Linked DNA regions of Homo sapiens: region 1 is linked to region 2. Evidence: fine-mapped expression QTL. Tissue or cell type: whole blood. Region 2 holds a variant in brackets; the other region holds the start of a gene. All regions are shown on one strand. Distances are from middle to middle. Region 1 holds the start of TMEM106B (transmembrane protein 106B). Region 2 has its middle 48 kb from the start of TMEM106B.

Region 1 (5,389 bases), 47 kb after region 2:
AAATGTTTGTAGTTAAGACAAGGGAGGAGGATGTGGAAGCCAAGGTTCTGATTATCTAGATGATGCCTCCAGGTAGCAGGCTTCAGAGAGAATAGTTTGTAAATGTCTCTTATTACTCCTTAAAATATTCCAGGCTCTTGGTTAAATCGCTGCTGAATTAGGAAAAGATCTGGAAAGGAAAGGGGATTCTGTACAGAATGTGGATCTTCCCCACGAGAGACAGCTTTGCAAGGCCATTTCAAAGAAATATATTTTGGGGTAAGATATTTCAATTTCTCTCAGGGCCTGCTATCTGTCGAGTGATTCTATATTAGAGTCAGGTTGGGATTTGATATCTTATTGCTACAAAGAGACTCTTGTTAGTCTTCAAATCTCTGTTTTAATTGATGCTGGTCAGTTGTGCCTGAATTCCAAAGAGAGGAAGGTACAACGGGGCATGTTCAATCCCCTCCACCCACCTTTTCATCATGGCCTGAACTACCTTTTTAGGTTTACTTTGGAATGCCCTTGACAGAGAAGCGGGTTCCACTTAGTTGGGGGGCTCAGAATTTTATTTTTGGTTTACAGAACAAACATTAAGAGAATGTTCAAACTACCTTTTGGATTATACCTTTTGGATTAGGATTATATCCAATCAAAATAATGTCTGAAACAAAGGAGCCATTTACTAGAGTCCAGAAGTGTTTTTTTAAACAAATAATGTGAAATGATGTCCTATCATGCTTATGATGAGAATGGGCTTTCAAACATTAACATTTGACAAAAGTCTACACCTGCAGGTTCTCTGAAAAGAAACATGCAGGTTTCATTTTTCTTAAAATAAAATAAAAATACATTCTACCTTTTAACTAGTTAGCACTAAAGGCAAAAATTGCTTTGGGTAGACGATAACTAGGTATTTGATGTATATCACCAAGTAACTTCAAAGTAGTACGTTTCAGCCTCTGAAAATTCACGCACCTTTGTGATAAATACAATCACCACTCTTTTCCATCCTTAAATTTCTTGCTTTAAACATTTAAACACTCGCAACAACAATAAAAAGCCCCAAAATTCCAAAATCACAGTTTTTTTTTCATTCAACAGTTGACAGTTAAAATTATGAAGCCAATGTTCCAAAATATTAAATATAAGTTACCAATACAAAGCAGCAAAATTTAGAACACTAACTTCAAAAATTTTAGGATAAGAGTATCAAAATAACAATACAAATGTAAAAATCTAAGTAGAAATAAATAATTAGTACTAGTGCCTACACAAAAATAACTTCTGCAGGTAGATAATGAAGTAACTTTATACTTAAGGTCATACCCTTTTAAAGCTGAAAAGAACTTAACAGTCATATAATACACCCTGCTGGTATTTTCCTGCTTATATCCTGAGAAAAAATAAAGTGAAAAAGTAAAACTGAAAAATAACATAATTATACTCCTTCTAAATTTGATATGTCTTTTAGCGGTTCCTAAAAATAGATTACATACATTCAGACAGATAGTATTTCTTTCAAAAATTCTCACTTATTTGATTAAACAAAACAGACATTCCAAGTAAGTCAGTTCATCCTAGAGTATGAAGAAAATTTTACTTTCTAGAACTGGCATGCCTGATAGGAGCCTGCTTGGTGGGTACAATGTGTGTTGCTCCAGTGCTGGATGCACTAAGGGCTCTGACTTCACCAGGATGTTGTGTATCAATGTAGCAAATGGCACTTGTACTCCATGAATATACACAAAATAAATACAAAGATAAAAAAATAAATAAAATTCGCATGCCATCCACTTGTTGCTGTCACTCAAATAAACAGAATTTAAAAAACTATACAAATGGTATGCAAACAAATGTAAAATGAGATTTTCACTCTTTCAAAAAAAAAAAACTATGTATTTATAAAAATCACTGCCCACATCAAAAATACAAATGATTTATGACTTCTAAAAAATCATTGTCTTAATCAACACCTGTCAGCCACAGGTAGGATAGGGAAGACTTAACATCACTGTCCCCACACACTGTAACCTTGGGGTCTATGCGGAACACTAGATGAATTGGGATCATTGGGCCTTATCAGCAAGGCCTTAAGGGCACTCTTTCTGGGATCTCAGTCAACACAGCCAGGCTGTAAGCTGCATCTTAACTGGAGCGCGTTGAGAAAAAAGACACAGAAAGGCAGACTCAAGTGGCTCTCCGTTTGAGCCTGTTTTCTGTCCTAATCTAATAGCTGCCATGATCGATTCTGCTTTAGGGTAGGTGTTTGGACAAGTGCCAGACTCTGTGAGAAACTGGGAATCCCTTGCCTTCTCTACTAGATTTTCCTTAGAGAACTGACAAGTGTAACCACTTTTATTCTTGGGAGACTCAATGGTTTAAAAAAGGGGTGCTAGACCCTCTTCTGCAACCTCTGTGGGCTCAGTGTTATTTATTATAGCGGTTCCTTAGTTTACTGAAAGTCAACATGGATATCAGACTCAGTTTGGAGAGAAAAAATATATCACAGCACTCCAATTTAAATGGCTCCTGATCTTCTGTGTAGACACTGGTTTTAGTTCTAAAAGGGCTTGAGAACTAAGGAAACAAGCGCCTTTGAAAAGCTCCATAAACAACACCTAGCACAAAGCCTACTCTGTAAAGCTGCAAAATAAGATCCCGGCACCACGGCAAGAACATTCATCAACAGCAAAAGGAAGAGGGCCACCTGGCGCTCAAGGTGTGAGGGCCTAGAGGCAACCCAGAGGTAGGGCTTGGGCCGAAGCCGAGTGTTCCCTGGCTGGGCCTCATTAGAGGCGACACAGCAACTCGATCACCAGCCCTGACCGCCGCCGTACCTGCGGCTGGCCCAGCACCCCAGCGGCCTCCCCTCCTTGTCAGGCCCGGCTCAAGCCGCGGCGCAGCCGCTCAGCCTCGCTCCGGAAGGGGACCTGGGGACTGCACGTCCGGGGTCGCTCACCGGCACGCGGGGCGCTGCGCAGTCCCGGGCTGCTTCGGCGCGGACAGGGCCGAGGACAGGGTCGTGGAGTCCACAGTCCCGGGAGCCGGGGGGTGGAGCGACCGGCCTGGAGCGCGCGGCCGCCGTAGAGCTGGGACGGGGGAGGGGTAGGATAACGACGGCATCAGCAGAGGCCAAGCGCTGCTGTAACCTGCGTCCGCGCCTGCGCAGAGCGCTCCCGGAGGGACACCCCTGGCGTGCGCGTGACGCATGCGTCCTTCTTCCTCCTGTTTGAGCCCAGAGGCGTCGATCGTGTGAGATTGTGCGCTCTTCAGGTTTCATTACCTTCGCGTCCCCCAGACTTCAAAGTGTCCACTGTAGCCACGAATTACCTAGGAACAGTCGCTCCTCCTATTTCCCATATCAGACCATTTCCTTTTGCAAAGGGTATAAATGTGCACCATCTGCCTCAGCTTTCAGCTGAGCAGCCTCCTCGCTCACGCAATGCGAGTTGTCGCTGACAGTCTGGTCCTTAGGAATGGAATAAACTGGTCCGTACACACGCCGCTGACAGCAGCAAAGCTACCTCTATTTTAATTTAGAAACTGGCCAACTAGAAGGAGACAGCAAGCGGCAAGGCCGTAGTTTTTGTTTTTGCTCGGTTTCGTTTCGCTTTGCCCACGCTGCCCCTCCCCACCCCTTAACTCTGGTGCTAGTTACAGGTGTGTGAAATCCCGTCTCGGATCCCAGTACTTAAGCTCTTCGCTGTGGGTTGGGGCTGCCCTCCCCCAACGTCTAGGTCATTTCACTTAGAAGATAAGAACAACGACAAGGAGTCGTTTTGAGGGATCAATGAGATGCCGGTAATAATATTAAGGGCACTCTAGTCTCATTCCTGCGGAGAGTTTAACGTTTAATGAATGGTAGGCATTCTTACAGTCACAGGAGCAAGGAAGTGAGAGTCATATATTTCTCTCTTCTAACAGGATCAGTGTGATCCTGTTAGAATCAGGGAATTCTAACAGGAATTGGGAAATGAAGCTATGTAAAAGTAGGAAATACAAGTCAGAACGATATACAATTTAAGAGGATTACTGTAGATCCATATGTGAGATAATGAGCTTTCTCATACAATGTTGTCGGAGATTTAAAACTCCTAAGTTTTCTGGCAGACAGTCAGTATGTATCAAGACTATTAAAATGTTCACATCGTTTGGTCCAGCAATTCCACCCTTTCAGAAGTATCCTAAACCTAATGAGAACTCTAAAAAGATTTGGGTATGAGGTGTATCCATTTAAATAAACTGAATGTCCAACAAGGGACATTGATAAAATCATTATTTTTCAACCGCTTTTATTTAGCCCATATTTTCCAAAGGGAAGGGTCAGGGTGTCTTCCATTAACACTGTTTGAAATTTCAAAATTAATAGGTTGGTTAAAACAAATCAGAATCATGGGGGAAAATTTTTCTCAAAATTATTGACAGTCCACCTGTGGAGATATGATGTTCCCCTTGGAATTACTGAGTTTTTAAAATTATGGAATAGCCATCTATTGAGTTTTTATAAAGCCAGTAAAAACCATCTTATAAGGCTGTTATACGCGGAGTGATATAAAATTAAAATCAGGATGCAAAGTATAGGATATGAGGTATTGTAATAGGATGTAAACTATATTCACATATAGATAACATATAGATATAAATATATTACATATCTGCCTTGAAATGGAAAGAAATATACAAAATATAAACAGTTGCCTGTAGTTTGAGAGCATGGATGTTTTTTCTTTATTATTGTTAAATAGGCAAATGGTTCTATAATGTAATATATATTATTCTTAAGTGAAAAAGTTACTTTTTTCTTTAATTCTTAAGGGAGTATTTAGTATTTTCTCAACCTCATCATTTAACTTAAAACGTGCTGGCCATATAGCACAGTTCCTTATCCAAATTCCTGGAATTCACATAGGAATAAGTCTTCCTGGGAGAATGTTGCTGTAAGAAGCAGTTCAGTAGCAGGGTTGGGAACACAGCCTTGGGAGCCATATGGCCTGAAAATGAGCCCAGCCTGACAGAGATATACAAAATCTCTGTAAGAGTGGGCAAAATACTTAGCCTTCTTTATACCTAATTTTTATTATCTGCAAAATGAAGATAGTAATAATGTCTGTCTCAAAGGGTTATGGATGGGAGCTGATACCTGCAGAGCAATCAGTAAATATTAGATATTATGATTACAAATTTATCATCCATATAACAAGGAAGTACTTTAAAGACAGATATTGAATGTTTGGTACATTTGTTCCTATGCCTTATTTTTCATTGAAGCACATTTTGAAAGGAAAATTTTCTGAAAAGCTTCCAATTATTTGATTAACAGTGATTTCTTGAGTTCCGAGTTCAGTAGTGGTCTAGGTGCTATCAGATATAAAGGCCAGTAATTTTAACAGTCTGGGATAAGTTT
Region 2 (5,389 bases):
AATTGAACAATGAGAACACACGGCTGTTTCTTGACACCATTGTGGTTCACCCTGGACACACCCTGCCGGCAACTCAGCAGAAAGAGATACTTCAGGAAAGAGCCCCACAGAGCTGGGAAGTGGGCTTGGGGCTTTTGGAACAGCCATCCAGAGTCCCAGGTACCCATGTCATGGTCTACAAGGTGGAGCACAGGCTCTGAGTGGCCACATGTCCTTGGCCCTGTGGGGAGTATGTGGTGAAAGGCAGCTTTAGCAGCTGCTGAGGCACAGCCCCTTCTGGTCCAGGTCTGAGTTCTATTGATAACAATGCTACCGGAGGGACAAAATTTAGGGTGTTTGACACGTAAAATACAATTAACTGTGCATGAAAGTTCTGGACCTTGACCCAGAATACTGAGAATAATATTCAGTAAATGGAAAATATGATCTTGGTACTGGAGGCATGTGACTCTGCTGCTTATTGCCAATCTTGTCTGCTCCTAGGAAGAATGGGAAGCATGTGGATTTAGTATTGATGTCTTCCCACCTCCCAACATCCCCTGTCCTGTCTCAGGAAGTGAAATCTGCTCAAACCTTGGTACAGAATTGTCACACCCAGAATTACTCTCCTCATGAAGAGATGACTGATTATTTTTTCTCTCCTCTCACCCTTACAAACTCCCTTTGTCTTGAGGAAAATGATGTCAGCTAGGTAGAAGAAAAAAGGCAAGGGTGAGAAGAGCAGTCTCCTCAGTAGAATTCTTTCAGGGGATTTTCCATTTTAAAGGTTGATATTTTCTGACAAAAATGACTCTTTCATTGATGGAGATCCAGGTATTACACCAAAGTTTGTTGAAGAGATTGCTTGTGTCATTGTATCCTATGCTTAGCTACCTCAGTTGAAATTCAGGACAGTATAACAATTACAGTTGTGTGTTTTGGAAAATATGACAAACATATATAGGGTTGCGAGGATTTATTGTTAAACTAGGACATTAAAGTACTATCATAGCACAGAGATGCTATGGAGGAGAGGATAGAAAGGCAAGATGAAAGATATATAAAAATGTATGAAATTTTTATGAAGTTATAACTTAAACAGTGAAAGAATCATTAAAATTTCTTCAGTGTAAAAAATGCATCTAAAAACTTAGATGTCTCTTCCATAGGAAAAAAAAATAGCAAGTGTTTTTTCAAACTCTTTATAGACATTTATATCTTAAGTGTCTATTCCAGATTCTCATTTGCCTTCTTTACAATCGAGGAATGACTTTTTAGAGGTACAATTAATGACCCCATTCTCTTTCACTAATATAAGAGTATAATTATTTCATTGGAAAGCACTACTATATATTATATTTCTTTCATATCTTTGTTCATGTATTAGTCTCATACAGTGCCTGCCTTATAAGATATTGTAAGAAATTATCAAGATAAATTTAATGCAGAAATAACAATGGTATATAATGTCCCTACTTATTCATTTATGCTTACATAACATTGGAGGTGCTCAAAAGGTTCCACGAGTATTGAGTCATTAAAGCTTAGTACCCCTGTGAGGTATGCTTGGTTATTATCATTATAGTTTATTAGACAGATCAAGCTTCCCCTGGAGTCCTGAAAGCTCTTACAGAAAGTGTTGGCTTTTTAATATTCTGCATCTGAGAATTACAACTCAGGTTTATGAAATTAACTCATTTTTCTTAGGATTGTCTCTTTCTTTTGAGTTATATGGTTTCACCTTCTTGTAGCATAGCAGAAACAGTGCACACCCAGCTTTTAGAAAACCTGTAGTTGAAAGGCTATTTCATCTCCTTCCAGAGATACAAAGAAGAGGCAAAATATTTGAGGGATTATAAGTAACCAGTGGGTGACATGAAAATTATTGATATATTTGCTAATATTTATTGAAAAATATACAATGTGCCAAGATTGTGCTAAATCCATTCCAGAGACCAGAGGCTTTGAAAGTCTGCATATTTTGCAAGTGCACAGCTCCATAAGTGGAAGAGCTAGTCCGGAACTCTAGCCTTTTGACTTCTAGCCCGATGCCATAGCCTCCATCCCTGAATTTCCCCAAATTTGATATGCTTGCTACCAGTGAGATAGAACTTGATTTTTCTCTGTACACAAGTATACTTTACTAGTTATATATTTCACTGCATTTTAAAATAATATTATTTCCCCACTAAACTGTGGTATGATAGATATCATTCCCTAGGAGAAAGCTAAATCAGGTAGAATTTGGGTTTAGGAAGTAAGTAGAAATGACAAAAATCACAAAGGTGGAACATTAAACTTTAAAGTCTGGAAGACCTACTATGTATCATATCACAGACTGAAGTGTATGAGGTAGTATGAAGTGAGTGTGGTTTGAATAACAAGAAGAAAGAAATAGGCTTTTAGCTCTAGCTCTAGTTTCTGTTTATTTTTGAGGAGATGAAACTGTTGAAAAATGTTTTCTTGCTTTTGCTTCTGGATATGTAAAAACTATTAAGGAAAAAAAACTTTAAAATAAGCAGCTTATCCATCATGGGGCCTTTAGATTCAAACTGATTGGTTCTGAAACCATAGTACATCCACTTACTAGTTGTGTGACCTTAGGAAAGTTAATTAACCTCTCTGAACTTCAGATTCTTTATTTATGAATGGTGATGAATGGTGTGAATGGTGATGTTATTTGTGAATGAACAGACACAATGTCTACAGAGTGCTTAACTTGTATTAGAAGGCATTCAGCAAAAGGTATCTACTGTTGTCATTTCTAGCACATTATTACCTCTTCTCTTTGAAACTTGCATCTTTGAAAGTATCATCAGTTACATCAGTCACTATAACT[G/T]TTAGCCCCTGACTCACTGTCATTCTCTTCTTTATTTCAGGTTTTGATGAGAACATGAATAGTCCTTTTAAATGTGGGCGCCTCTGTTTCTTGAACTCCCCTCTTCCCCAAAGCTTGTCTTCCACCCTAATTCAACCACTCAGTCTCATGGTCACATCCTAGACCTTGACATTGTCAGTACCTGGTATCCTCCCCAACTATAATCTCATTATCTAGTCTCCTCATCACAAAAATTTCAACATCACCTTTTTCACGAATCTGTTTTTACTGACCCTTACCTTCTTGTTGTTCCGTCTCCTTCGTTACTAGTCTGCTCAAGCTGCCATAACGAAGTGTGGTGGCTTAAATAACAGAAATGTATTTTCTCATGGTCCCAGTGGCTGGGAAGTCCAAGATCAAGAGTGCCAGCCAATTCAGGTTTTGGTGACAGCTGTCTCTTGGATTGCAGGCAGCTGCCTTCTTGCTGTGTCCTCATGTGATCTTTCCTCAGTGCAAAGATCTTTTCTGGGTGCACTGATATTTTTTTTTTTTTTTTTTGTTTTTTTTTTTTTTTTGGGTAAAGAGAGGAGAGGTCTCTCTCATACTCTATTTATAAGGCCACTAATCTCATCATGAGGGACCCACTTACATGACCCCATCTAGCTCTAATTATCTCCCTTAGGCCTTACCTCTAAATTCCATTGCACTGGGGGTTAGAGCTTCAACAAATGAGTTGCGGCAGGATATATTCACTCTGTAACACTTCTCCCTCCTAACCCAGCTTAAATTTACCAATTATAACCTCTCCAGTGCACACACCCTTGACTCATATCTCTCTTCCTTCATCATTTTCACTTTCACTTCCAGCCACATTTGGCCTCATTTAAGCCCAGAGTAGTTGGAACAAAACACACAAATATTCTGATTAGTTTCACTTTCAGTTAACAGCAATGAACTCCAGTAGATGTTTAATGCTGTTACGCACTCAGTACTTTCCTGATTCACTCAACTTTCTCATTTCTCATAGAACTTTGCTACTCCATGTGTAGCCCATGGGCCAACACTATTGATATTACCTAGATATTCTGAGAAATACAGATCTCAGACCCCATCCTAGACCTACTGAATACGAACCTGAGTTTTATCAAGATACTAGGAGATTCTTCTGCATAGTGTATTTAAGTTTGGGAAGCATCCCCTTAAAAGACTCTCTTCTCACACCTCCAAATCTCCTCTATCATCACTCTTAGCCAATGGCCTTGCTTCCTATATTTCTTAAAAACTGTAGCAATACATAAGTGGCATAGTCTTCCACCACGACTTGTACTCACTTACCACCATTCCCACTCACAACTTTTGCCTTCCCACTTGGGCCTATAAATGAGCCATCCATGTTCCCATTTGAAGTGATTGCTCCTCTGGGCTCTATATCACATCCCTCCCAGTTGGTCTAGGCTCTGCGTTAGCAATATTTCCTTCTCTTCCTTGATCATACCTACGGTCATGCAACAATGCTTTTATTTTTTCTTTTAAAATACCTTCTAATCCCATTTCCTCTGTTGCTTTCTCCTTTTATTTATCACTTTTGCAACAAAATTATTTAAATGACTTGTGTAGATCCTCTTCTGCAAATCCTTTCTTCCCATTCTCTGTTAAACCTACTTCAAATGTGTTTTGGCTCCTTTCATGTCTCCTTTTTTCGTCAATAGTTATTAAAAACTGTTCTTTTCAAAGCAAGCAATGATCTTCACATTACTAGATCCAGTGGTTGGTTCTCAGTATTCATTATACTTGATACCATCAACTACATTAGAATAAGCTGATCACTTCCTCCTCTTTAACATGCTGCCAGTATCAGATATATATTGAGCACATGTGTATTTTAAAAATTATTAATCTTCTTTGAAAGAAAATTTAGGATTCTGTCAGATTCAGCTGCATATAACAGAAATGTCAAACATAATATTTGCTTAAATGTGATAGAAGTTTCTCTTTCTTAAAAAATGTCTGAAGCTAAGAAATCTAAAACCAGTAGAGAGGCTTCACTGTGTCACAAAGACTGGGAATTCTATCATGTGCTTCATCACTTTCAGTGTTGTTTCCAAGTTTATAATTACTTCATAGTCTGAAAAACCTGTTAGAGATCCCATCATTAAGTCTGGGTTCGAGGCAACAGAGAAGATGATTGACATAAGAGCAGGCCCTTTTTCTTTCATCACTACTCATGAGTCTCATATTATGCTTCCGCCTGCATATTATTGACCTAGATTTAATCATATGCCATATCTAGCCACAAGATGAGCTACTAAAGGTAATCTTTGATTGGCAATAGGCCCACCTAAAACACAGGGTTCTAAGAAAGAAAAGGAGAATAGATGTTGTGAGACAACTAGAAGTTTCCATCCAAGGAAGTCATGACATTATCTTCATGAGAAAATGTGCTATTAGAATCATAAGAGAGTCCCAAATAGATGACTAACACATAAAGAAGCCATCACACGAAGGGCAGCTGATTTGTTAGTCATATAGCTGCTTTGTTCTTTGAGATCACATAAATCCAAACACTATATTTACCTTTAAAGTGTCAGTACA

The links.
Region 1: TMEM106B starts here. The variant in region 2 is fine-mapped to the expression of TMEM106B in whole blood (INTERVAL, PIP above 0.99).

What each region holds. Positions count from the first base shown.
Region 1 is chr7:12,208,981-12,214,369 of GRCh38, reverse strand. TMEM106B (transmembrane protein 106B) reads right to left here and starts at 3,076. Exons shown (of 8, transcript NM_001134232.2): 1 at 2,945-3,076. RefSeq lists enhancers at 2,359-2,875, 3,268-3,317, 2,876-3,394, 3,528-3,677 and a silencer at 2,778-3,087.
Region 2 is chr7:12,256,115-12,261,503 of GRCh38, reverse strand. No RefSeq gene overlaps it. Among named protein-coding and RNA genes, the nearest start is that of TMEM106B, 48 kb to the right of the region's middle. The variant G/T (reference allele first, on the strand shown) is at 2,819.